Linked DNA regions of Homo sapiens. The protein of the gene in region 1 interacts with the protein of each later gene in a pairwise test. Each region holds a gene or a part of one and is shown in the gene's direction. Other genes may lie near its edges.

Region 1 (3,547 bases):
ATCACCACCCAAGCTTGTTTTTCCCTAGCCAGTACTTAGGCAATATAGGCAGTGTAGCTGGTCAAATTCTGACATCTCTGAAATAACAAAGTTTCATGTATTTTCGACAAACTGCACAATTTCTGAATAGTCAAATTAGGATAGGTTGGTTTTATTTCGGATTATTTGATCCGAAATATACCTGATTTGGTTAGAACTGAAGTTACTAATTAATCTGAAGCAACATCATCACGGGTGTTTCCTTCGATGCAGCTGACTTACAGGTTTAGAAACTGGAGTGCCCCCAGGGGCACTCGTGGGGTCCATTGTGGTCCATATGAAAGCAAGTCTCAGCATTAATCCTGAAGATTAACTGCCCACTTTTTCTTTCAGGAGGATGAAGGAGAAGATGACTAAATAGAACACTGATGGATTCCAACCTTCCTTTTTTTAAATTTTCTCCAGTCCCTGGGAGCAAGTTGCAGTCTTTTTTTTTTTTTTTTTTTTTTTTCCCTCTTGTGCTCAGTCGCCCTGTTCTTGAGGTCTCTTTTCTCTACTCCATGGTTCTCAATTTATTTGGGGGGAAATACCTTGAGCAGAATACAATGGGAAAAGAGTCTCTACCCCTTTCTGTTCGAAGTTCATTTTTATCCCTTCCTGTCTGAACAAAAACTGTATGGAATCAACACCACCGAGCTCTGTGGGAAAAAAGAAAAACCTGCTCCCTTCGCTCTGCTGGAAGCTGGAGGGTGCTAGGCCCCTGTGTAGTAGTGCATAGAATTCTAGCTTTTTTCCTCCTTTCTCTGTATATTGGGCTCAGAGAGTACACTGTGTCTCTATGTGAATATGGACAGTTAGCATTTACCAACATGTATCTGTCTACTTTCTCTTGTTTAAAAAAAGAAAAAAAAACTTAAAAAAATGGGGTTATAGAAGGTCAGCAAAGGGTGGGTTTGAGATGTTTGGGTGGGTTAAGTGGGCATTTTGACAACATGGCTTCTCCTTTGGCATGTTTAATTGTGATATTTGACAGACATCCTTGCAGTTTAAGATGACACTTTTAAAATAAATTCTCTCCTAATGATGACTTGAGCCCTGCCACTCAATGGGAGAATCAGCAGAACCTGTAGGATCTTATTTGGAATTGACATTCTCTATTGTAATTTTGTTCCTGTTTATTTTTAAATTTTCTTTTTGTTTCACTGGAAAGGAAAGATGATGCTCAGTTTTAAACGTTAAAAGTGTACAAGTTGCTTTGTTACAATAAAACTAAATGTGTACACAAAGGATTTGATGCTTTTCTCTCAGCATAGGTATGCTTACTATGACCTTCCAAGTTTGACTTGTATAACATCACTGTCAAACTTTGTCACCCTAACTTCGTATTTTTTGATACGCACTTTGCAGGATGACCTCAGGGCTATGTGGATTGAGTAATGGGATTTGAATCAATGTATTAATATCTCCATAGCTGGGAAACGTGGGTTCAATTTGCCATTGGTTTCTGAAAGTATTCACATCATTTGGGATACCAGATAGCTCAATACTCTCTGAGTACATTGTGCCCTTGATTTTTATCTCCAAGTGGCAGTTTTTAAAATTGGCCTTTTACCTGGATATAAATTAATTGTGCCTGCCACCACCATCCAACAGACCTGGTGCTCTAATGCCAAGTTATACACGGGACAGTTGCTGGCATGTCTTCATTGGCTATATAAAATGTGGCCAAGAAGATAGGCTCTCAGTAAGAAGTCTGATGGTGAGCAGTAACTGTCCCTGCTTTCTGGTATAAAGCTCTCAAATGTGACCATGTGAATCTGGGTGGGATAATGGACTCAGCTCTGTCTGCTCAATGCCATTGTGCAGAGAAGCACCCTAATGCATAAGCTTTTTAATGCTGTAAAATATAGTCGCTGAAATTAAATGCCACTTTTTCAGAGGTGAATTAATGGACAGTCTGGTGAACTTCAAAAGCTTTTTGATGTATAAAACTTGATAAATGGAACTATTCCATCAATAGGCAAAAGTGTAACAACCTATCTAGATGGATAGTATGTAATTTCTGCACAGGTCTCTGTTTAGTAAATACATCACTGTATACCGATCAGGAATCTTGCTCCAATAAAGGAACATAAAGATTTTTTTTGGACTGGGGTCATTCTCCTTGTTTTATAGAGAAATGTTACTTGCTATTGGATTCAGAAATTGTTCTAGTTTTTTGTCTTCACATCGTTAGTGACTGGGGAAGCGTGGGTTAGCGCTAATGGTATGACATTGGTTTAGAAAGCTTTGAGCTGGTCGGTGTCCGAGTAAAGGACAAATTCAAATATCTTACTTGGATACAGTTTCTGAGTAAACAGTTTCTGAGAGGGTGAGTATAGCATTTTCATTCTGAAGTCTCAAAAGGACTTTTCACTAGGAAGAAAATTGAGTACAGTGGGTCCTGTTATCTGCAGCTTCAGCTACATGTGGTCAACTACAATTCAGATACTTTGAGACTACATTCACACCTATACTGTATGTTAAATGTGTGAATGTATAGTTATAGTATACAATAGTCAAAATTATCCTATACCGTTAATCTCTTACTGTGCTTAATTTGGAAATTAAGTTTTATAGGCAGGTACAGGAAAAATTGTATGGGGCTTGATACTCCTGTGGTTTCAGGCAGCCACTGGGGCATCTTAGAATGTATCTCCTTTGGATAAGTGGGGCTACTGTAGTCATTTGAATCAATATCCACAAGCCTGTGATAACTTTCTCACAAACTTAACAGTGAAACTTAGCACAACTAGTGGTTTTACATGCTGGTGAGCGTCTAGGGCTGTCAGGTTATAGGTCACAATAACGTTTATTTTCGGGAATGTAAAAAATCGGGAGCCCTTTAAGGTAGTAGTAGTTCACTCAACTATTGTGATCTCCTGAGGTGCCACTAATATCTGCAAATCTTGTAAGAGAACTAGGCTGTGAGAAAACAAAATGGCAACCTTACTGTACCAAAAACTTCCATACACAGTAGCCAGCATGCCTTGTGTCCAACTGCAAGACAAGTTCTTGGGCTGGTCTTTAGTGTGTATTGGAATGGGCTCAGCTCCTTTTCTCAAGGACATTTGAAAATAGAAAATAGAAGTTGGGCACAGTGGCGCATACCTGTAATTGCAGTACTTTGGGAGGCCCAGGCTGAAGGATCGTGTAAGTCCAGGAGCTCTAGGCCAACCTGGATGACAGGGACATCCCAACACTACCATTAAAAAACAAACAAACAAAAAAACAGGTGTGGTGGCGCTAGGCTAATCCTAGCTACTTGAGAGGCTGGGGCAGGATTGCCTTAGCCCAGGAGTTTTGAGGCTGCACTGAGCTATGAGTTTGCCACCGTGCTTCAGCCTGGGCCACAGAGCAAGAAGACCCTGTTCAAAACAAGACAAGAGTAATAATGGCTGTTTAGGAAGGGGCTGTGTTCCCAAGCTGTGCTGTATTTGGTTTATGAGGGGTATTTAATAACTGCATGAATTAGGATGGAGGGCAGTAGCTTGCAAGATGTCCTTACATCTAGTTTCAAAACCTTAAG
Region 2 (4,709 bases), on another chromosome or scaffold:
TCCATCACAAATTAGTTTTTATAAGAAAATTACCAGTAGTGTCACTGATATTTAATGTATTTTCCTAACTATAAGTGAAACTCTCTTTAGATAGTGAGTTGAAAGGTTAATCATAGCAAAAAGGTTTCAATTTTTATTAGAAAAACAGTCGATTTTAGAATGCAGTGACAATTTCATAAACTGAACATTTGATATCAGTGTAACTTTGGAAGCAGATCCCAGTTCGGGTTGATGAGCGTACTCTTGCAATTCCCATAAGCTCTTACGGTTCATTTTATTTCTTGCAATGAGAAACCTACATGATAGATTGTTCTTCATGCTTCCTGAACTGAGCCATTGCCCTTAAGTTTCTCAGGGCAAACAATTTTCATACAAGCACATGTTATTTTGTTTGGGGAAAACTGAGAAAACGGAATTCAATAACTGATTCCCTTAATTTATTTTAATAATTTTTTTAAAAAATGGAATAATTTAACAAAACTAATTTATCTCTCCCCCCCAACTTAGTGGGAAATAACCATTTAACAAAATTAAATTCATTTCTACATTTTGAAGCTGATAATGAGGGTACTGGAAAAACAAGCAAATATAAGTGTTTGTGTCAGCTACATAAATTATTAACAGATTAAAACTTCAGTGGAAAGTACAATTAGTCATCACCAAGGATAAAAATACTGGGGATTTAGAATGAGCTTTTCTTTCCTTTGATATGTTGAAGAAATATTGACTAAAAGGAAAATCACAATAGTTTCTGTTTAAATCTATGTACACTTATTGAAAATAAAATTTTATTTGCCAATTTCAGCTGAAGGTATATTTGTCAGATATTGAGATAGATTTAAATTAAAGATATCTTTCTCGTGTAACAATTGCATTAGGTGTTCCATAAATTATCTTCAAAGATATTTTATTTCATAGACATCTTGATCTAGCACAAACTAAAACAATATTGAAAATGATTATGATCCTGGTATGCTATTAATACGTATATCTCTCATTGCTTATAGCACATTTTAGTATTTCAATATTTCTAAAATATAAAATTGAAGTGATTTCGGAACTCCTGAAATTTAAAATTGTATTAGATAAAAATGTCATCCTATATAGTGAGATCATTTGTATTTTGTTAGGTAGTTTATAATTACTTTGCATTTATGGTTGAGAGAAAATTCAGTACATAAATCCAGGGTAAAGTCAGGACCAAAATTCTGTATCCCTGCATCTAATACTTAGACTGTATGTGTATGTGCTAATTCTAATTACCGTGTTAAATTCTAATAGAATTTTAAGCACCAGAAAGTATTGAAAAACAGCTTAAATATTTATAAACCTTACAATTTTATTCATAGTAACGATTTAAAACTATAATACGTAAGCTTCTCTAGCATATATTTTATGCACTTTCCCTCCACAAATGCACATGGACACACACATATGCAAACTCTAGCAGCTTCATGTTTTGGAAGCAAATATTTATGGACTTTAGGCTTCCTTTATGTAAGTTTATTGACAATTGAAAATAACCAAATTTAATAGAAAAACACACCATTATATTTTATATGTGTTAAACATTTTTGTAACTTTGAACCTGCTACGCTTTCCAGCATTATTAGCAAAGCCAACATCTGCCACGTCTTCAAAGGGACTCTTAAAAATCAAAACTTTACAACTGCTGAAAAAAATCACTACAAAGCAGGTGATTCTGAAAAATGTCTATAAATAGTGTGAATTGCTTGGCTTCAATTACATTTGGTTGCTCTTTGAGCAATCTAGTAGTAGGAATAAACTGCCCAGTTTTAGTTAAAATAACTAAAATTAATTCATTGATCGAACTTTAGCTTTTGTGCATGGTTATACAGTGTACATATCTAGATATTTTCTATTCAAATTTATGATACATATTTTATAAAAAATAGAAATTACATCAAAAAAGAAAAGAGCGATTTGGGGAGGTAGACTTTACTAGGTTTTGAATCATATTAGATTCTTGTAAAATTACAAATATTTTATTTATAGCTACTATGTCATAAAACCTTTGCTGTCAAATTATGTCTGTCTATATGCTTGACTATGCAGAATGACTAGCAAATATTACATTTAATAAGTTGGAACTTAAACTCAGAGTAATACCTTATCAACCTCATTCAGTATGATATTGTAATATTTCCAAGATATTTCAATCATTGTGTTTTCTGAAAGGAATAAATTAGTGTTATTATTCATTTCTGTGTTACTGGATTGTGGCTTTTCAGCATTTGCTTTAGAATTTAAAAAATAATATACTGGATCTTGAAGATTAAAGTGAAGTATTGAACAAATCAAATGGAGTACAAAAAAAAACTTCCATTCTTTATCTTGGACTGGTAGACTAATTTTAGGTGTGAACATTTAAAAATGGTAATCTGACATAAAAAATTCTAAGTATCATTGACCTACATGAGGGCTCTAAAATGTGATCTAAAATAATCACACTCAAGTTAAAAGCAACAATTCCTTTAGAATTAAAATGCTTTATTGTTGAACATTAGCAATGAATGGAAGGAAGAATGCAAATAAAAGTAGGAATAGTTTCCAATTCTGTGTAAATTTCTTCATTTATAGTTCATTTTAAAAGAAAAATCATAAATGCAAGGCATGGTATTGCACAAACTTTCACCGGGCTTAGAAATCCAGAACTTAGTATTTAAAGTTTTAATCTTTGTTTATGGTAATTATCAATAGAAACCTTTACAATGACATCTTATAAGCTGATCTTTACTAATAAACTGAAAAAACAGTACTTCAGTCATTACCCCATTCTCCCTCTGTGTTTCAAAACATAGACCGTTCATTATAACTCTGGAATTTAAGTTGTAATATTTATAATAAAATCTAAACATCCTAAGAACTTAATTTTAAGCAAAAATGAAATATCAGAAAATGTCAATCCTTTCTCTTAGATTCTGAGAAATTTGGGAGGTGAATTCCATATGTAATGAAATAATTACATTTTTTTTTGCACTTAAGAAATGTAAATCTATAGATGAATTAATAGCTGAATTATGTAAAACATCACCATATATAAGCCCACTACATGTACTTAGCCTGATAATGCTGCCTTGCTTGCGAAATTTTATTCATTTAGTGTTTTTATAATGGCAGCTTGACACACACAACCTAATATGAAGGTTTTTTAGATTTTAATTTCAAATGAGAAAAACCAATATAATACAGCAATATATTTTAGTTTTGAACTGTATTCACCTCAGGAATTTATTTCTAAATTTTCAGAGCAAATCTCTTTTCCAAGCACTGCTATGAGGGCTGCAAATATCTTTGAGCGATAAATACTAAGGATGCAGAAATATTAGAAAATAAATTACAGGTAGGAATTTCTTAAATAATATCTGTTGAATTAATAGTTGTGGATTATTTATCTCACCCAAATTTTCTTTATTTTTCTCACTTTTTTTTTTGATAAATGAAACATTTTGTGCAGGAAGATATATAAGCATTTCCCCCCTTGATTGTAATAATAAAAAGAGAAGGCTTAATTCTCAACTGGCCAGTTACATTGTATTTCCTGGCTTATAGTATTGGTAAATGATTTCAGTGGTTAAAATCAAAAGCAAAAAAATAAAATAAAACACAAACTAAGGCCAAAGTCCACAGATTAAAAATTGAAGTAGATGTGATTTATTTCCTATTTAGCATATTTAAGAAACAAGACACATTTTGTAGTCACAATTTGTTTCTACATATCATGTGCTTTAGATGTTAATATGGTTTACTGACATACATGTTTTGTAAAGATTGTAAATATAATGAGGCACTAACATTTTGCCTACTTTCCTTAGGATGCTCTCATGACTATTTCTTTTACTAGCGTGTTGAACTGAACCCCCAAGTAGAAAAGGAGTAACGGTGTAAAGTAAAGTTAGTTGCAAAACTCTCTACATTACTCCTAAATCACAGTCATCAGTGAGATTCAAAATCCCATTGGAGAAAACCTCGCAGAATATTTTATGTGTTTTAATGTAGTAAAACTTAGAATGGTCAAGAACATATAGGGCTCAGCCTACAATTTGCGTTAGAGGCAGAATTAATCTAAATCTGATGCCCATTTCTCTAACAGTTCTTCCCGTTTTACTTACATTATAAAAATATTGAATTTTTTAAAGAATGTTGTACTAGATAGTATTTTATGATACAAAATAATCAATAATGTATCTATTGATCCATTTGTGCTCATCTCAGATGTTGTTTTTATGTTTCAGAATAAGTATTTTCATTTAAAATCTCTTGACATTATTTATTACCAAATTAACAGAAAGTTACATGGTAAGTGTATGATCGAATGGGTTATTAATTTTCATGGGTCATGAGTGGGTTTTTAATTTTCCTCTATATTTGAAATTTTTGATATATAATTTCCGGAATAATAAGTAGCTCATTATTCCTGAAGCTTTCATTTATAATGTTACTTTGTGTACAGAAATATAATATTTCTAAATTTATATATGTTACTCACTACTAATTGTGCACTGTATTTTTAAATATTGGTTTTCACAGTGTTATGAAAATAATTTACATTTTTTTGGTTTCTTACATCACCATATGCACAAGAATGATCAGGTAGAATCCGTACTGTATCTATACATTTTTGGAAAGGGTTTGTATGAAAGATAGAAAAACCCTTTCAAAAATAATCCCTTGTTTTATCAATAGAA
Region 3 (4,709 bases), on another chromosome or scaffold:
CCCTTAGTAATGCTTAAATAGGCATTGCCAGTATTTGTCTTTGACTCGTTTTTTAATGCTTTGAAGAGCTAGTAAATCTTTTGAGGTCAGGCATGGTTGCTCACACTTGCAGTCCCAGCACTATGGGAGGTCGAGGTAGAAGGATCACTTGAGACTAGGCATTTGAGACCACCTGGGCAACATAGCAAGATTCCATCTCATATATCATGGTGGTACGCGCCTGTAGTCTCAGCTACTCAGGAGTCTAAAGCCTGAGAATTGCTTGAGCCAGGGAGGTCCAGGCCACAGTGAGCCACGTACGCCATTGCACCCAACCTGGGTGATAGAGTGAGACCTTGTCTCAAAAAAAAAAAAAATCCTCTGGATGGATAGATACATTGTTTCAAAGTCTTATAGGCCTGGAAGCCATTATAGTTCTTTAACTCAGTTTCTCTTACTTTCACGGGTTCATTTCCCTGTAGACAAATATGACAGCATATTTCAAAGATTTATGACATGTTTAATACATAAAAAAGAATGTATTCACTGAATACTTGAGAAACCACGAAACAACTTAAAAAAGGAACACCCCCAATCTATACCTTTGCCTTCATCCTAGAGGTAACTATTACCTGGAATTGTATTTGTCTAACATTCTCATGCTTTCCTTGATAGTTCTAAAACTTGTTTCTTTTTATTCTCCCAATTGGATATTTCAGTTGTTTTCAGGTTTTTATTGTTACAGGCATACTGCTAGTACAAACTTTCTTGTCCGCAGCTATTCATGTGCATGAGTTTCTTTGGAGTGTTCAGGAGTGGACTTTTTACATTGATGTGCTACAGAAGGTTCTGGGACAAATTGGACTTTAGGATTGATGTGTACCACCTACAGGGGATATGTATTGAGTATTTGAAAGACTTCGGAAATAACTGTGATTGTTCCTTTACAAATGGATTTTAACTGCATGCTTTCATATGGCCTTGTTACTAGGTAATCAAATGTTCTGTGTTACTTCCCTGTATATTCTGGATTCAGATCTTTCTGAGTTTTATTTGTGGCTAGTATCTCCTAGTTGGTGATTATTTTTCACTCTTTGTGGTGTTTTGGTGAGCAGACATTATAAATTTTAATGCAGTTGAATTTATCATTTCTCATTATTTTTACAGACTCTTCCCTATCCTCATCTTAAAGATTTTCTTCCTAATCTAAAAGTTTTAAAGTTTTGTCTTTAATCCACTTTAATTTGATTTCTCTTCTATGGTAGGGACCAAATTTTATTTTTTCCACATAGGTTACTAATTGTCCCCGCACTGTTTATTGGAGCCTTTCCCCGCACTGATATGCAGTACCATATCTGACACATCAATTCTCTATATATGTTTGAGTCTGTTTCTGATGTCTCTAATCTAAATTAGTGTCACATTGTCATCTTTACTGTAGAAATGCTGTAGCTCTATAATAACTTAATATTTGTAGAGAAAGTGCCTAACTTTGTTTTCCCGCTTGGATCTTTTTTTTTTTTTTTTTTTTTTTTCAATTTGGCTGTTTGCCCTTTTAAAATATTTAGAATCAGCTTGTCAAATCTGATGAAGAATCCTTTTGTGGTTTATATTTGAATTGCGCTGAATGTGTGTGTTAGTTTAGGGGATAATTTATCATCTTATTCGTGAATATGATATATACCTCTGTTTAGCTCTTCTTCTGTATCTTTACATAAAACTTTGTATTTTCTTTGTGAAAAGATAATACATATTTTATAGGATTATTTCTTTGTACCATTTTTGTTGTTCTATTATAAATGGAATCCTTTTAAAATTTTAATTGTGACCAGCTTTGAAGAAGCATCTCTTATGACTTTTTCAGCTGATAAATTTTCCTGAAGATTATAGCAAAAGTACCAAATTTTGAGGGTATTAAAAAGCAGAAATTAATTGGGGTGTATCTTATCACATCTGTTTTTAGTAAGTGTGAAAAGGTCAATATTGTCCATTTATTTGTCTTTTCACTTAGAGATTGTGTGAGAGAACTAATATTCATAGACCCTGTTGACTCAGGTAGTTTTCAAAGTGTGTATGTGTTTAAGTGGTGTGTGTGACTTTTTTCTGAGACAGTGGTGAGAAAATTGACATTTTTACTCTTTAGAATAGTTCTTAGAAATGTATATTTAATATACTAGTTGAGGTCATTGTGTTCTATCAGGAAAAAAAATTGTTCTCTCTGCTTCCTTTTGTGTAATGTTCTTCTGTTTTTCTTTTTTTCACTTGACCAAATATCTAGCTTATTCTGTGTTTACTTCAAGTCGCATTTCCTTTCATGCCTTCCCAGACCATTTAATCCATAGTTATTTCCTCTTGTTAATTTCTAAATTCTTACAGATTCTACTTATAAACATAGAATGGCCTCCATATTGTATCATTAAATGCAGAGACCAAGGGCACAGTACAAAGGGTCCTATTTTAAAGATCTGTGTGTGTGTGTGTGTGTGTGTCTGTGTGTGTAAAAATTTTTGGAGGAATGCACTAAAAAATTTTTTTTATGATAGTTAACTTTTAAAACTGGGTCTGAAAGGTCTAAGATGGAAGGAAGAGTTTTACTTCATGTGCTTTTATACTATTTGAAAATTTTGCTATCTGCATGTATTACTATTTATTTTCAGGGTTATAGTGTTTATTAAGTATGTAACAGTAGGAGTTGGCTCAAAATTATCTGGAAAAATAAGAAGTAAACAAGATTGCCAAAATGTTGATGATAAGTGAAGCTAGATAATAGACCCATGGTGATTCATAACATTATTCTCTCCTTTTATGTATATTAGAATTTTTCACCATAAAATTTTAAAAATTAAACATTGATATATTCTAGCTATAATTTAGGTCTGAAATGGGCTTTGCAATTCGAAACACTTGTAAATGTATCAGGACACTAAAGATTCCTATTTTTTTATTGCTATATAATTCACCTACCACAAAATCATCCTTTAAAAAAGTATGTAATTTGGTGGTTTTTATTATATTCACAAGATTGTGCAGCCATCAGCAGTATCAAATTCCATATCACTTCCCAAAAAACCCACACTGATTATCAGTCATTGCCCCTCCTTCCCTATTCCCAGCCCCTGGCAACCATTATTGTGACATGTGTAACTACTTTATTTCTCTTTGTGGTTGAATAATATTCCACTCTATGGATTTACTACATTTTGTTTATCCGTTCATTAGTTGATGAATATTTGGGTTGTTTGTACTTTTTTGACTATGTATTCATTACTTGTTAAAGTTTAAATATGTAAGAAAAGACCTATGGTTTTTGTTTGTGTTTTAGGTGGGGGGAAATGATTCTATTTTTATTCTCAAAACCGTTTTTGAAAAACTTTACTGCTAATAAATTATGAGGTTTTGGAACATACACTGTACAGTTTCATTAAAAGTAAAATTCTTGTGTCATTTAAGTAGAAATTGTTTGTATTTTAGATAACATTTGGTCAGCCAGGCTTGGACATTCAGAGCAGAAGTATGGAATACGTACAGCGGCAAATATCCAAGGAATGTGGAAGCCTAAAGTCCCAAAATAGGGTAAGTAATGTTAGTTTATCTTGTGATATGGAATTTAACTAATTAATAGATAGGTAAAGTTTTCCAGTCTTTCTAATTCTCCATATAGTTGAATTGTACTAGAAAATTTTTCATTGTATAAATTTGCTGCCTATGTGCTTAAACGCTGTTAGTTAAAAACTCTGCAAACTTCTCATTTGAGTCTAAAAGATTGCCAGAGCTGCATTTATTAGATAGGACCAAAAGGAATTATATATTGTTAATTAAATAAACTGTATCTGTCACCCCACCTTTAGCTCAGACCTAGAATTTTCTTAGCCCTAATTCCATGTATCTAGGAAATAGAAGTTTGCCCCAAACTGAGTCAGATGCTTACTTGTAGTAGACTAGTCACTGTGTCCAGGGACTGGAGCTAAAGATACAAATTTGTCTACTTAGAAGCCTGCATTTATGGATGATGTAAGGGGTCAAAAGACTTAATTTTGTTCTTTGGCCTCAAAGAACCAACCTTCCCAGAAGGGTTGTGGAAGTAGGGGTATTTTACGTCATTGTTCAGAGACTTTTTGTGTACCCAAGCTACACACATGTGTGTCTTTGTATTAATTTGCTAGGACTCCCACAACAAAATATTACAGACTGGGTAGCTTCAACAACAGAAATTTATTTTCTCACAATTCTTAGAAGTTCAAGATCAAGGTTGTTGGTAGGTTTGGTTTCTTCTGAGGCCTTTCTTCTTGGCTTGCAGGTAGCTGCCCTCACATGGTCTTTCCTCACTTTGCCCTCACATGCTCTTTCCTCTGCCCGTACATCCCTGGTGTCTTTCTCTGTGTGTCCAAATTTCCTCATAAAGAAAACAGTCAGATTGGATTAAAGTCTCTCTTAAGGGCCACATTTTAACTTAGTCACCTCTTAAAAGGCTCTATATCCAAATACAGTCGCATTACTGGAGGTTAGGGCTTCAGCATATGAATTTGAAGAGGACATAAGTCAGACCATAACATTTTGTCCTTTGTTCCCAAAATCATGCCCTTCTCACTTGCAAAATACATTCATCCTTATCCTAACAGCCCCAAAGACATAACCCATTCCAGCATCAACTCTTAAGTCCCAAATCTCATCTAAATAACGTCTTTCAATCAAGTGTGGGTAAGTGGCTCATGCAATAGTAGAGGTACAGA
Region 4 (4,709 bases), on another chromosome or scaffold:
CCCACCTCATGACATTCTAAACGGGAATCTCAAAAATACAACTAAGCAATTGAACCGCCTCAGACTTGCCAGTAGTTTTATGGATAATAACAAAGTAAAGACCTCCATCATTATAGGAAAATGACAGCCACTCTCCAACCTGTAAACATCTGAATGCTTTCAGGACAAGGCAGGTGTTCTTGGTTATGGAGCTATGAAGCCTACTAAAGCTTGTTTTCCAGCATTAAGTACTCAACACAGAATTTCTGCTGAAGGAAAATTATTTTGCTTTTCAGGCAACTTTGTGACTTACTTCAGCTGCAAATTACTTATATTAATAAAGTAGGATCTATCAAATTAGAGAAATGATATATGGCATCATTGGGATTTTCATATTTAATACAATTTATCATTTTTCTGGTCTGACATTAAGCGATTTATTTGGAATTTTTTCCCTTATGACAAAATTTATCAATCAATGGTAACTCCTTTAGTACCTTGGTCATTTGATGAGGTGTTTTCTAGGGAATTTGGTCGTTCTTAGTATATAATTCAGCTATTTTCAGTCAGATCCAATCTTTAGATATAAAAATATATCATTTGATTAATGGTAGTTACAAGAGGGTGAAAGCGGTACTGTTTATCAGATTCTACTCCTTCTCGCTCTTAGGACGGCCTCATCTGACAGCCTCCTGACTAATTATGGCCACTTGTTACTACTTCTCTGTGTTCCAAGTGCGTAAAACACATGCAAGGTGCCAACAATGAGAAGTCACTCTCTCCAGCCAGGATTTCCCTCATTGTGTTGGCACAACGAATCAAAATTAATGTACAATGTTCATTTTTTTAGAACTCTCCGGTCTTTGAACTTTCCTCTTTGAAATAAAAATTTCTCTTCTGCCCATTGTGAATTAGAGCCTCATTTCCACATAAAGCATTTGTATTTGCTTTTAGTGATTTAATACTGCTTTTTAGTTTTGCTTTATCTGTACTAACCAATAGTCATAGCTTTTTGACTCCTTTTGACTTTTACATTTGTTTGTAATTTCAGTATCTCAAGTGGATTTATGTTACCATTTCAAATAAGGAGTTTATATAGCCCGGGCAATGTTAAGGTGTTTTAATAAACCAAAGGACAAAAATTAAGTAAACTTGAAAGAATGTCAACTGAAATATCTGGGGTTTTTGAAAACAAAAATAAAAATTTGCCAAGGAAATACCTATATTGTGAGTATAACATGCTTCTTAGCTGTCAACATAGCATCGAGCAAAGACAGTAATCTTAGATTTGTTTTGTTTTCTTTTTCCTTGTGGTAGTAAAAATATATTTGATAGTCTCAAGTGTTTTGCTAAAACGCATTTATCAAAAATAGTTTTCATATCAGAAGTTTTTGTATCTCTATAAGAGTGTATGTGGCTTTTTGTAGAATAACTTTCAGTTACCTCCTGATAGGCTCAAACTTTTAATGGTGGTTAACTTATTAAAAGTATATAATATTCTTTCAAATATAAACCCTGGTCCTGATTGCCAATATATTCATTTCTCAGAGTACGATTTCCGCTTAAATTGGTCATTACCACATTAATGGCCAGTTGTTATGTTAACAGCCTAACGGTTGTTAACATTTCAAACTAAGTTGTTAACAGCAATCTTGTCCCTTATTTAAACTGAAAGTTTGTTGTATATAATGTGACTTATTTGGCAACTTCATCAACACTTAAAATTGCAGAAGTGAAGTGGAGAATTGGTGTGTGTAAAACACTGTGTTACGTGTTATAGATTATGCCGCAGATGTGGTATTTAGTTTTATGTGGAAAGCATGTGTCTCAGTGAAATTGTGTAGATGTTCAACTGCATATGTCTCTGATTGGCAAATTAAAATAGTCTGATTCTGTATGGTAAATCAACAAATATAGTCAAGCAGATTTTATTTACAAATTAATTTCTTTGATTAGATACAAATAGTTGTTCAAAAATGTTTATTAAATGCTTACTGTGTGAGAGGTATGATTTCAGGCAATGGGTGAAATTAGCTAAAGGAAAAAGGAAGGTACACCTAAAGTTGCCACTATCTAATTGTTTATTTAATTACATAGAATCTGTAATATAATCAGTGAACAAGTAATATTCTGTGGTTATTTTCCTGAGCTTTAAAAGTAATTTTTCTCATTTTCCTCCAAATTCAGCATACTTCCATTTTGTATTTTATATAACCAATGTTTAATCACTTAAGTTCTATTTTAAAAGTTGTTTTATTTTTGGCCCTTTGATATTATGTAATTTCTCTGAGGCACCAAACTGAACATAAATAACTTACATATTTATATTTCATGTCTAAATTATTAAGAACATAAGTAAGAATAAGGAAAGTAATAAAATAGTAATTTGCCTGTCCACATATATTGTTGGTTACAAGTATTGTCCTGGGCCAGATAATTTTTTACATACAGTGAAAAGTAAAATATTTTTGCCAATTACATTTAGCTTCTTAATACACTTCTCCCTCCATAAACAGAAAGAAAGAAACACTCCTAATTATGAGCAATGAGACTTAAAGATCTGTGTTTTACTTGTGTTACTTTGAGTAGTGATAATGATGATGTGATTTATAAGTTCTTTGAATGATGATTTGAGATATTAAATAATATGAAAATATAATAATTTAGACTGTAAGATATTTTCTTAAGGGTTATAGAAACTATTATTATGGAAAATTTGATGTCTTTCCATTTTTTTTCTCCTTTATGGCACTAGTAGCTATATTTAAGAGAAAAAGAAAGAAAAATCTTCCATAGTTTGTACACTAAGTATCAAATCTTAACAGTGGAATTTTTCACTTTCCAGAACTGGACTGGCATATCATTCATTTAGCTGTGGAACATAAAATGTACATATCTGATGAGACAGAATTTGCCCATTTGTGGGATTGCTTTCCTCCTTTGGAAACTCATTAGCTAAAGAAAGAGAAGGACTGACTTTTTAAAACTTCCTCTAACATGTTTCTGACTGAAATTATGAAATCTACCCAGTCAATATTTATATGCCAGGCAGACCAAGAAATGTATCTGTTAAAAATCTATCCAATGCATTTATAATTATTTTTATTTTTTTGAAGAGTAACTTATGACAAATTAGATATAGAAACATCTTTGTACTTTAAGTTGGAGCTTAAAATTGATATTGTCTAAAGTAGATTAAAAATGACTGTGTAAAAATAGCAAAGTTGTAGTGATAATGTTTAAGGTACTCATCACTGCGATCTATCCGCCTTATTTCAGTTTGAAAAAATATGAATAAAGTAGCCAGCCAGTGCATAATCAGAGTCTTAGAATTAGGAATTCTACATGCTTTTATTTAATGTTTTGCAGCAAGCATTAAATAGAACTAGGAGAAATACCAAAATACTTTCTTTTTCAACTTGAAGGCAATAAAGGATGTCAGAATGTAACTGGAACTCAACTTCTGGGCAATTTTTTTGTTGTTCTTTCTTTGAACCTGCAACTTTTTGTGACGTACTTTAAGCATTAAGTCTATATAGGCTGTATGTATCTTGTATCTCTATGAATGATATCTTGCCAGAGTTTATTCAAAGCTGTTTGCTGTGGTATGTGCCATGGAAGCTGCTTATAGCTTTTCCTATATAAGAAGCTGTAAAATGTCTTATATAAAATTTAATGCAATTTGCTATTTTTATACGTGAGGATGATTTGTTTAAAATGAAACTACTGGGAAAGAGTGATGCTTCATGCTTCACCATAGTTGCTAATTAACTAAAATGATTTGAAGCTTGCTATGCTGACTACAAATTTTATAGGCTTTAATATAATAATATAATAACTCTAAAAGAGAAAATAAAAATAAATTGCCACATAGGGCATAAATCTAGCTGTAACTTTATCTCACGCTGATCAAACCTGGTGCTTCTAAATTTTTATGTAAGGTCAGCTTTATATTGGTACATAATTATAAGTGTAAAGGTAAATAGGAATATGTTGTTAATATTATTTTATCTGGCAATTTATAGCACAGATGCTTTTTTAATGTTGATACAATATTCATTCTTTTTTCTTTCATTGTCATCTTTTTAATAATCATTTGGAAGTATTTTTCCAGGAAAGCAATGTATTCTTATTATTTGAAAAACCACTTTTTACTGTTCTAAATTCTGAAAGCATAAACTTTTATATGAAATGGAACTCTACAAATAAGCTTTATTTCTATAAGCTTCATTTGAGCTTTTAAACACCATATTATTGTCATAATTTTTATGTTTGAATGTCTAAGTTAATTTTAGTATTATGAAATATTTTGACATGAGCATATTGAACTCCATATCTGTTACAAAAATACTGTTATATTCCTTAAAAATTATCTTATTTGCAGCTTTATAAAAAGTTACAATTTTAAGATCATTTTTCCCTTTATTGTAGAAGAAGCATTATTGAATTCTGTTTTAAATATTTTAGCGTTTATACTACCCTGAACCAATACAAATTAGGAGTGATAATTTTTTTGGATAATTCTTCAGAAGAGTGCCCCTCATTCTGGAAAATAGTAGGTGAATTCACATTAGACTTCCTGAGCAAAAACTGCCCCCAAACAACTTCTATTAAAAATATTTACTGCACATACAGAATTTCTTCTCATTGGTAAATTTATCTGCAATATCTTTCTATCTTTAATTCTATAATGCATTCATTTTCAGTAAATGAGTATTTACCAATAATAT
Region 5 (4,709 bases), on another chromosome or scaffold:
TCTTTGGTTCTGTTTATATGCTGGATTACGTTTATTGATTTGCATATGTTGAACCAGCCTTGTATCCCAGGGATGAAGCCAACTTGATCATGGTGGATAAGCTTCTTGATGTGCTGCAGGATTTGGTTTGCCAGTATTTTATTAAGGATTCTTGCATCGATGTTCATCAGAGTTATTGGTCTAAAATTTTCTTTTTTTGTTGTGTCTCTGCCAGGCTTTGGTATCAGGATGATGCTGGCCTCATAAAATGAGTTAGGGAGGATTCCCTCTTTTTCTATTGATTGGAAGAGTTTCAGAAGGAATGGTACCAACTCCTCTTTGTACCTCTGGTAGAATTCAGCTGTGAATCCATCTGGTCCTGGACTTTTTTTGGTTGGTAGGCTATTAATTATTGCCTCAATTTCAGAACCTGTTATCGGTCTATTCAGGGATTCAACTTCTTCCTGGTTTAGTCTTGGGAGTGTGTATGTGTCCAGGAATTTATCCATTTCTTCTAGATTTTCTAGTTTATTTGCATAGAGGTGTTTGTAGTATTCTCTGATGGTAGTTTGTATTTCTGTGGGATCGGTGGTGATATCCCCTTTATCATTTTTTATTGCATCTATTTGATTCTTCTCTCTTTTCTTCTTTATTAGTCTTGCTAGCGGTCTATCAATTTTGTTGATCTTTTCAAAAAAACCAGCTCCTGGATTAATTGATTTTTTGAAGGGTTTCTTTGTGTCTCTATCTCCTTCAGTTCTGCTCTGATCTTAGTTATTGCTTGCCTTTTGCTAGCTTTTGAATGTGTTTGCTCTTGCTTCTCTAGTTCTTTTAATTGTGATGTTAGGGTGTCAATTTTAGATCTTTCCTGCTTTCTCTTGTGGGCATTTAGTGCTGTAAATTTCCCTCTAGACACTGCTTTAAATGTGTCCCAGAGATTCTGGTATGTTGTGCCTTTGTTGTCATTGGTTTCATAGAACATCTTTATTTCTGCCTTCATTTCGTTATGTACCCAGTAGTCATTCAGGAACAGATTGTTCAGTTTCCATGTAGTTGAGCAGTTTTGAGTGAGTTTCTCAATCCTGAGTTCTAGTTTGATTGCACTGTGGTCTGAGAGACAGTTTGTTGTGATTTCTGTTCTTTTACATTTGCTGAGGAGTGCTTTACTTCCAACTGTGTGGTCAATTTTGGAATAAGTGTGATGTGGTGCTGAGAAAAATATATATTCTGTTGATTTGGAGTGGAGAGTTCTGTAGATGTCTATTAGGTCTGCTTGGTGCAGAGCTGAATTCAATTCCTGGATATCCTTGTTAATTTTCTGTCTCATGGATCTGTCTAATGTTGACAGTAGGGTGTTAAAGTCTCCCTTTATTATTGTGTGGGAGTCTAAGTCTCTTTGTAGGTCTCTAAGGACTTGCTTTATGAATCTGGGTGCTCCTGTATTGGTTGCATATATATTTAGGATGGTTAGCTCTTCTTGTTGAATTGATCCCTTTACCATTATGTAATGGCCTTCTTTGTCTCTTTTGATCTTTGTTGGTTTAAAGTCTGTTTTATCAGAGACTAGGATTGCAACCCCTGCCTTTTTTTGTTTTCCATTTGCTTGGTAGATCTTCCTCCATCCCTTTATTTTGAGCCTATGTGTGTCGCTGCACATGAGATGGGTCTCCTGAATACAGCACACTGATGGGTCTTGACTCTTTATCCAATTTGCCAGTCTGTGTCTTTTAACCGGAGCATTTAGCCCATTTACATTTAAGGTTAATATTGTTATTTGTGAATTTGATCCTGTCATTATGATGTTTGCTGGTTATTTTACTTGTTAGTTGATGCAGTTTCTTCCTAGCATCAGTGGTCTTTACAATTTGGCATGTTTTTGCAGTGGCTGGTACCAGTTGTTCCTTTCAATGTTTAGCGCTTCCTTCAGGATCTCTTTTAGGGCAGTCCTGGTGGTGACAAAATCGCTCAGTATTTGCTTGTCTGTAAAGGATTTTATTTCTCCTTCACTTATGAAGCTTAGTTTGGCTGGATATGAAATTCTGGGTTGAAAATTCTTTTCTTTAAGAATGTTGAATATTGGCCCCCACTCTCTTCTGGCTTGTAGAGTTTCTGCTGAGAGTTCTGCTGTTAGTCTAATGGGCTTCCCTTTGTGAGTAACCCAACCTTTCTCTCTGGCTGCCCTTAACATTTTTTCCTTCATTTCAACTTTGGTGAATCTGACAATTATGTGTCTTGGAGTTGCTCTTCTCAAGGAGTATCTTTGTGGCATTCTCTGTATTTCCTAAATTTGAATGTTGGCCTGCCTTGCTAGGCTGGGGAAGTTTTCCTGGATAATATCCGGAAGAGTGTTTTCCAACTTGGTTCCATTCTCCCCGTCACTTTCAGGTACACCAGTCAGACGTAGATTTGGTCTTTTCACATAGTCCCATATTTCTTGGAGGCTTTATTCATTTCTTTATACTCTTTTTTTCTCTAAACTTCTCTTCTTGCTTCATTTCATTCATTTGATCTTCAATCACTGATACCCTTTCTTCCAGTTGATCAAATCAGCTACTGAAGCTTGTGCATGCATCACATAGTTCTCATGCCATGGTTTTCAGCTCCATCAGGTCATTTAAGGTCTTCTCTATGCTGTTTATTCTAGTTAGCCATTTGTCTAATCTGTTTTCAAGGGTTTTAGCTTCTTTGCGATGGGTTTGAACATCCTCCTTTAGCTCGGAGAAGTTTGTTATTACAGATCGTCTAAAACCTTCTTCTCTCCACTCATCAAAGTCATTCTCCATTCAGCTTTGTTCCGTGGCTGGCAAGGAGCTGCATTCCTTTTGAGGGGAAGAGGTGCTCTAATTTTTAGAATTTTCAGCTTTCTGCTCTGGTTTCTCCCCATCTTTGTGGTTTTATCTGCCTTTGGTGTTTGACGATGGTGACGTACAGATGGGGTTTTGGTGTGGATGTCCTTTCTCTTTGTTAGTTTTCCTTCTTACAGTCAGGACTCTCAGCTGCAAGTCTGTTGGAGTATGCTGGAGGTCCACTCCAGACCCTGTTTGCCTGGGTATCACCAGTGGAGGCTGCAGAACAGCAAATATTGCAGAATGGCAAATGTTGCTGTCTGATCGTTCCTCTGGAAGCTTCATCTCAGAGGGGCACTCGGCCATATGAGGTGTCAGTCGGTCCCTACTGGGAGGTGTCTCCCAGTTAGGCTACTCAGGGGTCAGGGACCCACTTGAGGCGATAGTCTGTCCATTCTCAGATCTCAAACCCTGGGCTGGGGGAACGACTATTCTCTTCAAAGCTGTCAGACAGGGACGTTTAAGTCTGCAGAAATTTCTGCTGCCTTTTGTTCAGCTATGCCCTCCGCCAGAGGTGGAGTCTACAGAGGCAGTCAGGCCTCCTTGAGCCGCAGGGTGCTCCACCGGCTTCAAGCTTCCTAGCCGCTTTGTTTACCTACTCAAGCCTCAGCAATGGCGGGCACCCGTCCCCCCAGCCTGGCTGCTGCCTTGCAGTTCAACCTCAGACTGCTGTGCTAGCAAGAGCGAGGCTCCGTGGGCGTGGGACCCTCTGAGCCAGGCGCCGGATATAATCTCCTGGTGTGCCATTTGCTAAGACTGTTGGAAAAGCACAGTATTAGGGTGGGAGTGACCCAATTTTCCAGGTGCTGTGTGTCAAGGCTTCCCTTGGCTAGGAAAGGGAATTCCCTGACCCCTTGCACTTCCCAGGTGAGGCGATGCCTTGCAGTGCTTCAGTTCACACTCCGTGGGCTGCACCCACTGTCCTGTACCAACTCTCCAACAAGCCCCACTGAGATGAACCTGGTACCTCAGTTGGAAATGCAGAAATCACCCGTCTTCTGCATCGTTCATGCTGGGTGCTATAGACTGGAGCTGTTCCTATTTGGTCATCTTGGAACCTCTCTTATTCTTTTAATGCCTGTAGCATCTGTAGTGAGAACCTTTCTTTCCTGATTTTTGTAATTTGTATGTTTAATCAAACTAGCTAGAGGTGTGTCAGTTTTATTGTTCATTTAACAAACTCAGCTTTTGGCTTCATTGATTTTATTTTTCTCAATTTTATGTTTTATATTTCATTGGTGTCTATTTTTAAATTATTTCCTTTCTTGTATTTACTTTTAAAAACATAGAGATATATAATTCACTTAACATAAAATTTCTTATCACATGAAATTCACCCTTTTAAAGTATACAGTGCAGTGGTTTTAGTATATTCACAAAGCTTTGAATCTTCACCCTGTTCATTTCTAAAATATTTCAATCTCTAAAAGGGAATCTCATATCTATAAGCAGTCTCCATTCTCCACCCCCCTAGCCCCTAACAACTGCTAATCTACTTTCTGTCTAAATGGATTTGGCCATTTTGGATATTTCATATGAATGGAATCATAAAATATGTGGCCTTTTGTGTCTGGCTTTTTTCACTTAGCATATTGTTTTCAAGGTTCATTCATGTTGTAGCACATATGAGCATTTCATTACTTTTTATGGAGAGACAATAATTCTGTTGTGTGGATATACCATGTTTTGTTTATCCATTCATCAATCAATGGACATTTGTATTGTTTCCACTTTTTGGCTATTATGAATAATGCTGCAATAAACATTCATGTACAAATTTTTGTGTGGACATACATTTTCAGTTCTCTTGAATATATGCCTAGCAGTGGAATTGCTGGGTCATCTGGTAACTCCGTGTTTAACTTTTGGAGAAACTGCCAAATT
Region 6 (4,709 bases), on another chromosome or scaffold:
GGTACCCAGCTTTCCTCTGAGCAGGGGTGTCCGAGTTGGGAGTATGACAGTGACAGCAGTGGCCAGCTGAACACGTAATGACAGTAGCTGAAGAGGAGTCACTGATCCACCCCCAACCTGCCGCAAGCTGAGTATGAAGAGCAGCTGCCGTGGGCAGGGAAGTGAGGAATGGCTAAGGGAGCGAGGGGAAGGCTTTAAAAAGCCAGGTTTCTTTTGAAGCCGTAGAGATGATTTACATTTCTTGAGCTGTCTGAAAGGAATTACTCATATGACTCTAAAGCTACCATATTTAAAAAACCCAGATCTGGGAAACAAAATGCCTATGGTGCTAGTTCTTTAAGAATGTAGAAATCAGCTTGAATTTTTGACTGTTTCTATACAGACTGCTTTTGTAGCAATCTAACATGAAGCAGTGAGCATGTCTTTGCAGTGGAGGTGCAGCATAGTGAGTAGCCATGCGGATAACCCCATACTCATTGGCAGTATGTTATAATGTGAGGGCCCGCCTGGCCTGGGTAGGCTAAAGAGCAGTGGTCCCCAACCTTTTTGGCACCAGGGACCCGTTTCATGGAAGACAGTTTTTCCATGGACTGGGTGGGGTGAGGGGTAAGGGGATGGTTTGGGGATGAATCAAGCACATTGCATTTATTGTGCACTTTATTATTGCTACATTGTAGTATGTAATGTAATAATTATACAACTCACCGTAATGTAGGATCAGTGGGAGCCCTGAGCTTGTTCTACAATTAGATGGTCCCGTCTGGGGGTGATGGGAGACAGTGACAGATCATCAGGCATTAGATTCTCATAAGGACCATGCAGCCTACATCCCTTTTGTGTGCAGTTCACAGTAGAGTTGGCACTCCTTTGAGAATCTAATGCCACCGCTGATCTGACAGGAGGCGGAGCTCAGGTGGTAATTCGAGCAGTGGGGAGTGACAGACTTCCTGCTCTGCAGCCAGGTTCGTGACAGGCCATGGACCCGTTGGGGACCCCTACTATAGAGAATAGATGTTATTATTTTCAAACCTTCACATTGGGTCTTGTATCTGTGTAATAGAGGTTAAGACTGGAAGTTATTTTTCCTACTAGGTTGAAAAGACCCTACTCAGAAAGGCGAGAAGAATGAACAGGAGAGGAGAATACGAACAACAGAAAAGGGCATTCCAAGGCGAGGAAAGCTAGTGGGGACAAGGGAGTAGGGAAGGAATATTCTAGAATATCTTGGATCTTGGAATGCCATGCCTATTTAAGGGAGTCTGTAGTCTTTGGAAGGCTGTGAACAATGGGATTGACTACTGAAGACAAAAATGTTGGTGGCCTTTCAGGATGCTAGAAATTTCGGGGGGAAATGACAAGAAGAATCACCATAATGATTCACATGCAGGGATATTTCCATCGTGTCTTTTTCTACAGTTTATATTCTTTTGCACCTTGCTTTTTTCACTTGACATCATTTCAATGATATTCTGTCATTATTTTCAGTAGCTGAATAATCCTGTGGATATATCATAATTTAATTATTTTTTTGCTTAGTATTCAGGCTGTTTCCAAATTTACATTGTAAATAATATTGATGTGTGGGTATAGATGGTCCCTGATTTCAGATGGTTTAACTTAACGATTTTTCTTTTCTCTTTTCTTTTTTTTGAGACAGTCTTGCTCTATTGCTCAGGGTGGAGTGCAGTGGCGCGATCTCAGCTTACTACCACCTCTGCCTCCTGAGTTCCAGCGATTCTCCTGCCTCAGCTTCCCAAGTAGCTGGGATTACAGGCATGTACCACCACGCCCGGCTAATTTTTGTATTTTTAGTAGAAATGGGGTTTCCCCATGTTGGCCAGGCTGGTCTCCAACTCCTGGCCTCAGGTGATGTGCCCGCCTTGGCCTCTGGAAGTGCTGGGGTTACAGGCATGAGCCACTGCGCCTGACCTTAACCTGACAATTTTTCAACTTTATGATGGTGCAAAAGCAGTAGGCATTCAGTAAGCTCCTCCACTTAGGATGGTCATGTCCCCATAAATGAGTTGTACATGGAGGAGTATCTGGTATCTTTCAGGCACAATTCGTACGTTAAGACAGACCCAAGAGGGGAATTGCTGGAAAACCAGCTAAGAATAATGTTTAAGGTCCTCACTAGTACAGGACCTTGAAAGTTTTGAAAGATGTGTTTGAATAGGTATTATGTATACATGTTTCAGAATTCAAAAGGCACCCATTGCCCTTTGTCCTCTAGGAAGGAAAATGAGGTTGAAGCAGGGGTAGGCTCGATGCCAGCTTATTTGAGGCAAGGGCCCATCTCCCTTATGCTTCTTTGGAGTGATTGCCTTTTTTTTCCCTTTGACTAATGGAAACTTTCAAACATACAAAATAAAGACAAATAGTACAGTAACCCCCGTACACCCAGCTTCACCATTTTTCAGCACATCGGTCTTTTATCTGTATTTTCTTACTCTTCTGGCCTCCTCGGGGATTATTTACCAATTTGGAAGATGGCTTTTTGGAGACAGTCTTGCTCTGTTGCCCAGGCTGGGGTACAGTGGTGCAATCTCAACTCACTGCAACCTCCCCCTCCTGGATTCAAGCAATTCTCCTACCTCAGCCTCCCCAGTAGCTGGGATTACAGGTGCCCACCACCACGCCTGGCTAATTTTTGCATTTTTAATAGAGACCAGGTTTCACCATGTTAGCCAGGCTGATCTCGAACTCCTGACCTCAAGTGATCCACCTGCAGGCATGTTTTTGTTTTTCATCGTTTGCTGGCCATGTAGAAAAAGACTTCAGATGTTTGGAACTTGATCTATTTATTGAGGAAGGGCAAACAATATGGCACAACTTCAAACAAAGCTATCATTAACAGATTAAATTTTTACAACTTACATAGAATGTATTTCTACCAACATTATTTGGAGCTGTGGCATGTAGATTCTCAAAAACACTTGCTGAGTGAATTACAACTACCTGTTACTTTCATTTTTTGGTACCCTGTTGCATTTTGATCTTGGTTTTCTCTTTTCATCATCTGGCTGTGTGTGTGTGTGTGTGTGTGTCTGTGTGTGTGTGTGTGTGTGTGTGTATTAATAAATGATGACCAAAACGCGTCTGGACCGCAATGGAAAACTTAACGGTACTTTTTGGTATTTTTTTTTTTTTTTTTGAGACAGAGTCTGCTCTGTCGCCCAGGCTGGAGTGCAGTGGCGCGATCTCAGCTCACTGCAAGCTCTGCCTCCCAGATTCACGCCATTCTGCCTCAGCCTCCCGAGTAGCTGGGACTACAGGCGCCCACCACCACGCCCGGCTAACTTTTTGTATTTTTAGTAGAGATGAGGTTTCACCGTGTTAGCCAGGATGGTCTCAATCTTCTGACCTCGTGATCCACCTACCTCGGCCTCCCAAAGTGCTGGGATTACAGGCATGAGCCACCACACCCGGCCGGGAAGACGAGATTTTTTAAATTACACACTTAGATGAAATATTGTAATATAGTTTGACGTTTACTGTCACCTTGGGAAGCATTTTTATGTACTTTTCCCATTTAATTTCACAACAGTTTTATAAAGTGATAATCTTCTGATTTTAAAGGTGGAAATGTTTAATTTGCCTTAAAATTTTTTTTTTCAAAGTCTAAGGCTCATGGTTTGTAATCCCAGCACTTTGGGAGGCTGGCTGACTCACGCCTGTATTCCCAGCACTCTGGGAGGTGGAGGCGGGCGGGTCACCTGAGGTCAGGAGTTTGAGACCAGCCTGGCCAACATGGTGAAGCCCTGTCTCTACAGAAAATACAAAAATTAGGCCGGGCGCGGTGGCTCACACCTGTAATCCCAGCACTTTGGGAGGCTGAGGTGGGTGCATCACGAGGTTAGGAGATCAAGACCATCCTGGCAAACACGGTGAAACCCCGTCTCTACTAAAAATACAAAAAAATTAGTCGGGCGTGGTGGCGGTCACCTGTAGCCCCAGCTACTCGGGAGGCTGAGGCAGGAGAATGGCGTGAACCCGGGGTGGCGCAGCTTGCACTGCACTCCAGCCTGGGCAACAGAGTGAGACTGTCTCAAAAAAAAAAAAAAAAAAAATTAGCGGGCATGGTGGCGTGCGCCTATAGTCCCAGCTGCTTGGAGGCTGAGGCATGAGAATCACTAGAACCAGGGAGACAGGCTACAGTGAGCTGAGATTGTGCCACTGCACTCTAGCCTGGGCGACACGCTATCTCCAAAAAAAAAAAAAAAAAACGAAGTCTAAGGCTCTTGTTTTAAGTTTTTGTTTTTTCTAGAAAAGGGGTCATGGGTAAAGTGGATACCAGCTGTTGTTTCAATTGATCTCTTTCAATTAATTTTAGCATATGTTCCATTGCTTGCAGATGCATGGAAAATCCTTTTAAACTGCTGCATATTTAATAATTTTTCCATTGGTTAACCTTGAGGTGGTGGCGTGTCATCTAGGTTTAAATACAGAAGAACTCATTTCCTTTAGGACAGTTGAAAGATGTATTACTCAATACAAGTGTAACCCGGTTTCTTTTAGAAAACATTCGATCCCACGATTGCAGTGTGTTTTTTGAATGTCATTTAACAAAGGAGAGCTTGAGATTTTTAACATGAGGTAAGTGCTGTAGTTTTGCTGTTTGGAGTCTTAGAGATATTGCCAGGAGGCATGAGGGTACCACTCAGAACCGAATGGAAGCAGATACCTCACTCAAAAGAAACAGATCTGGG
Region 7 (4,709 bases), on another chromosome or scaffold:
TGTTTCGTTGACTATTTCAGTTTATGCCCCAGCAGCATAATTTACCATTCTCTTTTGTTATTTCCTCAGGTAGGTAGTTGATTATTAGCTCCTTATTCTGGCAATAAATAAAATTACATTTTAAGATGTCTCAGAGAAATATCCTCTGTTTCTTTTTTAATTTTCAAAATATGGAAATGTTAAAGGTCATTTTTAAATTGTGTTCTTTTTTTCCCCACTGTTTACAAAATTTCCAAGGCTCAACCTCTAAATTATTTATTTTTCTCATTGATCACTCTATTACCACTTTAAAAATTCAACAAATATTTAGTAAATCTCTGTCACGTACTGGACACTGTAGGCCCTGAAGACACAGACCAACTCCCTGTCCTCTAGGAATTCTAGGGAAGCCAGGCAGTATATGTGATACTTTATCTATTAATTTTTATTTTTTGAGATGGAGTCTCGCTCTGTCACCCAGGCTGCAGTGCAGTGGCGCTATTTCGGCTCACTGCAAACTCCCGGGTTCACGCCATTCTCCTTCCTCAGCCTCCCGAGTAGCTGGGACTACAGGCGCCCACCACCACGCCCAGCTAATTTTTTTGTATTTTTAGTAGAGACGGGGTTTCACCATGTTAGCCAGGATGGTCTCGATCTGCTGACCTTGTCATCCACCTGTCTCGGCCTCCCAAAGTGCTGGGATTACAGGCGTGAGCCACCGTGCCCGGCCTATATGTGATACTTTATTCATTTATTCATTCATTAATTCATTGGAGATGTAGTCTCACTGTGTTGCCCAGGCTGGAGTACAGTGGCATGATCTCAGCTCACTGCAACCTCCACCTCCCAGGTTTAAGCAGTTCCCCTGCCTCAGCCTCCCAAGTAGCTGGGATTACAGGCACTTGCCACCACACTCGGCTAATTTTTGTATTTTTAGTAGAAACGGTTTCACCATGTTGACCAGGCTGGTCTCAAACTCCTGACCTCAAGTGATCTGCCTGCCTTAGCCTCCCAAAGTGCTGGGATTACAGGCATATGCCACCATGCCTGGCCATAAATGGAGCATATGTTCTAGAGAAAATGAAACAGGAAGAGGGAGCAGGGAGTTCACAATGGGATATAGTTTTAAATAAGGTCATCAGAGGAGATGCTCGTTGAGAAGAAGCCATTTGTGCAAAACCTTGAAGGAAACGATGCAGCAAGTACTGGGGATTTACTGAGGGAAGAGTGTCTTGGGTGGGCGGGAGTAGCCAATGCTCCTCCCAGCCAGGAGCCTCCTCTCAGGAGGTGCATGCCCAGAACAGCAAAGAGGCCACCATGGCTGGAGTGGAGCAAGTAGAGGAAATATGTCAAAGAGGCTCCTGAGAACCTTTTTAAGCATGAGGCCTTTTAAGCCATTGCAGGGATTTTGGCTTTACTCTGAGATGAAGAGCCATTGGACAGATTTGAGATGAGGAAGTCATAGATCTTGTGCTATGATGTGTTATTGTCACATATTCTTTCAAGAGGGTGAATTACTAAGCCTTTGTTCTAGCTCATCTTGCGGTAAATATTTTCTGCCCAGTTAGGAGGAAGAACTAGTGATAAATGACCCAATATTTTCTCTTCTCTTCCTTCCACACCCCAGATCTGTTGTGTAAATGCAAAGAACATTATTACTGTTAATGTAATTATTTATTAAGCCACATCTCTAAGTAACCAAAAGCCATCAATAATTTTAGGCTTTCTGCAAAGTCTCTCAATCCTGATTTAAAGTGTTTATTTATGACTTATTTTGGTACTTCTTCCAAAAAAAAAAAGATGAGAAGGTGAGGTTTAAAATGAAAAACATTTAAATTTAAAGGCTATGAAAATAAAACTTAAAAATTAAAATTATGTAGGAAGAAGTAGCAATCCATACAGATGACTATTGTCAAGTGATTTACCACTCAATTTACCCATAAGCGGAATTCACGGTAACCAAACTCAGAAGGAAAACAACAAATAACATAATTATCTTTGTCTGATTTTTCCAGACAATAGCACTCACTAGTCCTTGTACTTCTTACTCTCGTGCAGGCTATCCTGTGAACTTATGTTTCATAATGTCCTTTTTCTTTGCAAAACAATTACTTTCTAAAAATAAACTGGTCAATATAAATTTCACCTTATTTCTACTAGGTTGCTTGTTTATTTAGGCGGTGTCATTTCTGCTGAAAGAATCAACTTCCTGCTAAAATTGTTAATTCACTCACTGTAGGCATTAAAATCAAGGTTGACGGGCCGGGCGCGGTGGCTCATGCCTGTAATCCCAGCACTTTGGGAGGCCGAGGCGGGCAGATCACCTGAGGTCGGGAGTTCGAGACCAGCCTGACCAACATGGAGAAACCCTGTCTCTACTAAAAATACAAAATTAGCTGGGTGTGGTGGCACATGCCTGTAATCCCAGTTACTTGGGAGGTTGAGGCAGGAGAATCACTTGAACCCAGGAGGCAGAGGTTGCTGTGAGCCGAGATCGCACCATTGCACTCACCTAAGCAATAAGAGCAAAACTCCGTCTCAAAAAAAAAAAAGAAAAAAGAAAATCAAGGTTGATGTTACATTTTCTTTTCTTTTTTTTTTGAGACGGAGTCTCGCTCAGACTGTTGCCCAGGCTGGAGTATAGTGGTGCGATCTCGGCTCACTACAACCTCTGCCTCCAGGGTTCAAGTGATTCTCCTGCCTCAGCCTCGCCAGTAGCTGAGATTACAGGCATCTGCCACCATGCCTGGCTAATTTTTTTTTTGTATTTTTAGTAGAGACAGAGTTTCATCACGTGGCCAGGTTGGTTTCAAGCTCCTGACCTCAAGTGATCCGCCCATCTCAGCCTCCCAAAGTGCTAGGATTATAGACGTGAGCCCCCGTGCCCAGCTGATTTTACATTTTCAATTGTCTGTTTCACTAGATTGTCTGCTACCTACCTTGTATCCTCTAACAGATAGTGTTCAGTCCCCTACCCCCAACTCTAAAATCTAAAAAACTCTGAAAACAGAAGTTTATGAAAAGTTGTTACAAACTCATTCAGAAGCAAAAACTTGAACTGAAATAAAGACAATTTAAAAATCTTCATTTGTCCAACTTGCGAATATTTGCATGTTTTGCTACAGAAGTGGTAATAGGTTCAATTATGGGTGCCCTGCAGATTCCGCTGGGAGTTATGTAACATTTAGTACACGCATCTTACTACTTTTCCAAAATTTGAAAATATAAATTCCAAACCACATCTTCCTCCAAAAATTTCAGAAAAGGGATTGTGGACTTGGCAATAGCCAATCCTGGGATAATGATTGGAATAATGTAGGTGCCTAGTAAATGTGAATTGAAGTTTGATTAATATGAGATACTTAGAAATTAGAAACATTTCTGCAGCCAGGTCTTGTGACCTTGAGACCTCAGAGAATAAAATAGATAATTCAGTCTTTAGAAGCAGGACACCAAAATGTTTCCTTAATTGTTCTCTTAAGGTAGTAGTAATTGATCTTAGGTCAGGCTAATAAATCCAGAAAGAATGAAGTGTTACCCTATCAGTCAAAATTGTTCCTATTAGTATCCTAGAAGGTGCTTTTTATGCCATTCACATATTTTGCATGTTGTCTCTGTATCTGTACTTATCACTTTGTATCTTTCTGTTTTTTGTTCAACATTTTTTAAAGGTGTCACATCAGCTTTTTTAATACTGGTGATTTAATTGCAAAAGCACACATAAACAGTTTGAAAGGTGTGAGAAGAAATTCGTAAGTCACATGGGGAAACAGCAACAAAGCTAGCATTCAGTCTGGAATGCATCCACTGTGCAAAACAAATTCAACTGCCAGTGGGTCAAATGGTGTATCCTGAGATTGAGTGAAAAATGAGTTTGATACAAGAAGCGCTTGTTTTATACAAAGGATACAGTGGGAAATATCAAGATGAGATGAATATAGGCTGTACCCTCACAAAGCTGAAGCTTAATAGGGAAAGCAGAACATGTATATAAAATAATAAACTACATAGCAGAACATACCAGACATCATGTGAAGATGAGTGGGGATAGGTTAAATGGAGAGGATGGACTTGCAGAATACATGGATGAGAAGGACGGAATTTTCGCTGTCAAGCAGTGTTGACTAGTAGAGATACACATAAACACATAAATTATTATGGAAAATGGTAAATAACATAATAGGAGCTAAGGAACCATAGATAAGTATAGAAATCCTTGGGGAAGGTAGGCAGGAATTGATCTTCAAGCTGGTCTTGAGGGACACAAGATTTTGCCCAGAAGGCTTGGAGGTAGGTCAAGGAATCTGTTCTGGGCAGAGTAAATAAGATGCTTGTTGTTTGAAGTATCACTAACAGAACAGTTACATACAGTAACTCTTTATATTTTATTGTCATTGCAGGTGAATCAAACATCCCTTCTGGAACAATACAGAGTAGGAAAGGTTTGCAGAATAAGAGTCAGTTTAGGACCATTGCACCAAAAATTGTGCCCAAAGTCCTAACGTCCAGAATGCTGCCATGTCATTCACCATCACGCTCTGATCAGGTGAATCTGGGACCCTCCATCAACTCCAAGCTGCTGGGGATGTCCACCCAGAACTATGCCCTGATGCAGGTTGCTGGCCAGGAGGGGACATTTTCTCTTGTTGCTCTGCCACATGTTGCCTCAGCTCAGCCAATTCAGAAACCCAGAATGTCCCTACCTGAAAACCTGAAACTTCCTATTCCTA

What was found.
Region 2: the proteins of SET (region 1) and MEOX2 interact in binary tests that used the Homo sapiens proteins (3 or more experiments, as listed by UniProt).
Region 3: the proteins of SET (region 1) and SPRED1 interact in binary tests that used the Homo sapiens proteins (3 or more experiments, as listed by UniProt).
Region 4: the proteins of SET (region 1) and LMO3 interact in binary tests that used the Homo sapiens proteins (3 or more experiments, as listed by UniProt).
Region 5: the proteins of SET (region 1) and SGO2 interact in binary tests that used the Homo sapiens proteins (3 or more experiments, as listed by UniProt).
Region 6: the proteins of SET (region 1) and YWHAG interact in binary tests that used the Homo sapiens proteins (3 or more experiments, as listed by UniProt).
Region 7: the proteins of SET (region 1) and ZNF438 interact in binary tests that used the Homo sapiens proteins (3 or more experiments, as listed by UniProt).

What each region holds. Positions count from the first base shown.
Region 1 is NC_000009.12:128,694,269-128,697,815, forward strand, and holds the end of SET (protein SET), read left to right. Parts: intron 1-372; coding exon 373-396; 3' UTR 397-2,128; downstream 2,129-3,547. UniProt on the Homo sapiens protein: Multitasking protein, involved in apoptosis, transcription, nucleosome assembly and histone chaperoning. Isoform 2 anti-apoptotic activity is mediated by inhibition of the GZMA-activated DNase, NME1.
Region 2 is NC_000007.14:15,679,766-15,684,474, reverse strand, and holds part of MEOX2 (homeobox protein MOX-2), read left to right. Parts: intron 1-2,494; exon of another isoform or gene 2,495-4,709. UniProt on the Homo sapiens protein: Mesodermal transcription factor that plays a key role in somitogenesis and somitogenesis and limb muscle differentiation. Required during limb development for normal appendicular muscle formation and for the normal regulation of myogenic genes.
Region 3 is NC_000015.10:38,345,972-38,350,680, forward strand, and holds part of SPRED1 (sprouty-related, EVH1 domain-containing protein 1), read left to right. Parts: intron 1-3,450; coding exon 3,451-3,552; intron 3,553-4,709. UniProt on the Homo sapiens protein: Tyrosine kinase substrate that inhibits growth-factor-mediated activation of MAP kinase. Negatively regulates hematopoiesis of bone marrow.
Region 4 is NC_000012.12:16,595,289-16,599,997, reverse strand, and holds part of LMO3 (LIM domain only protein 3), read left to right. Parts: intron 1-1,030; coding exon of another isoform or gene 1,031-1,103; exon of another isoform or gene 1,104-1,206; intron 1,207-4,709.
Region 5 is NC_000002.12:200,563,329-200,568,037, forward strand, and holds part of SGO2 (shugoshin 2), read left to right. Parts: intron 1-4,709. UniProt on the Homo sapiens protein: Cooperates with PPP2CA to protect centromeric cohesin from separase-mediated cleavage in oocytes specifically during meiosis I. Has a crucial role in protecting REC8 at centromeres from cleavage by separase.
Region 6 is NC_000007.14:76,347,783-76,352,491, reverse strand, and holds part of YWHAG (14-3-3 protein gamma), read left to right. Parts: intron 1-4,709. UniProt on the Homo sapiens protein: Adapter protein implicated in the regulation of a large spectrum of both general and specialized signaling pathways. Binds to a large number of partners, usually by recognition of a phosphoserine or phosphothreonine motif.
Region 7 is NC_000010.11:30,850,038-30,854,746, reverse strand, and holds part of ZNF438 (zinc finger protein 438), read left to right. Parts: intron 1-4,379; coding exon 4,380-4,709. UniProt on the Homo sapiens protein: Isoform 1 acts as a transcriptional repressor.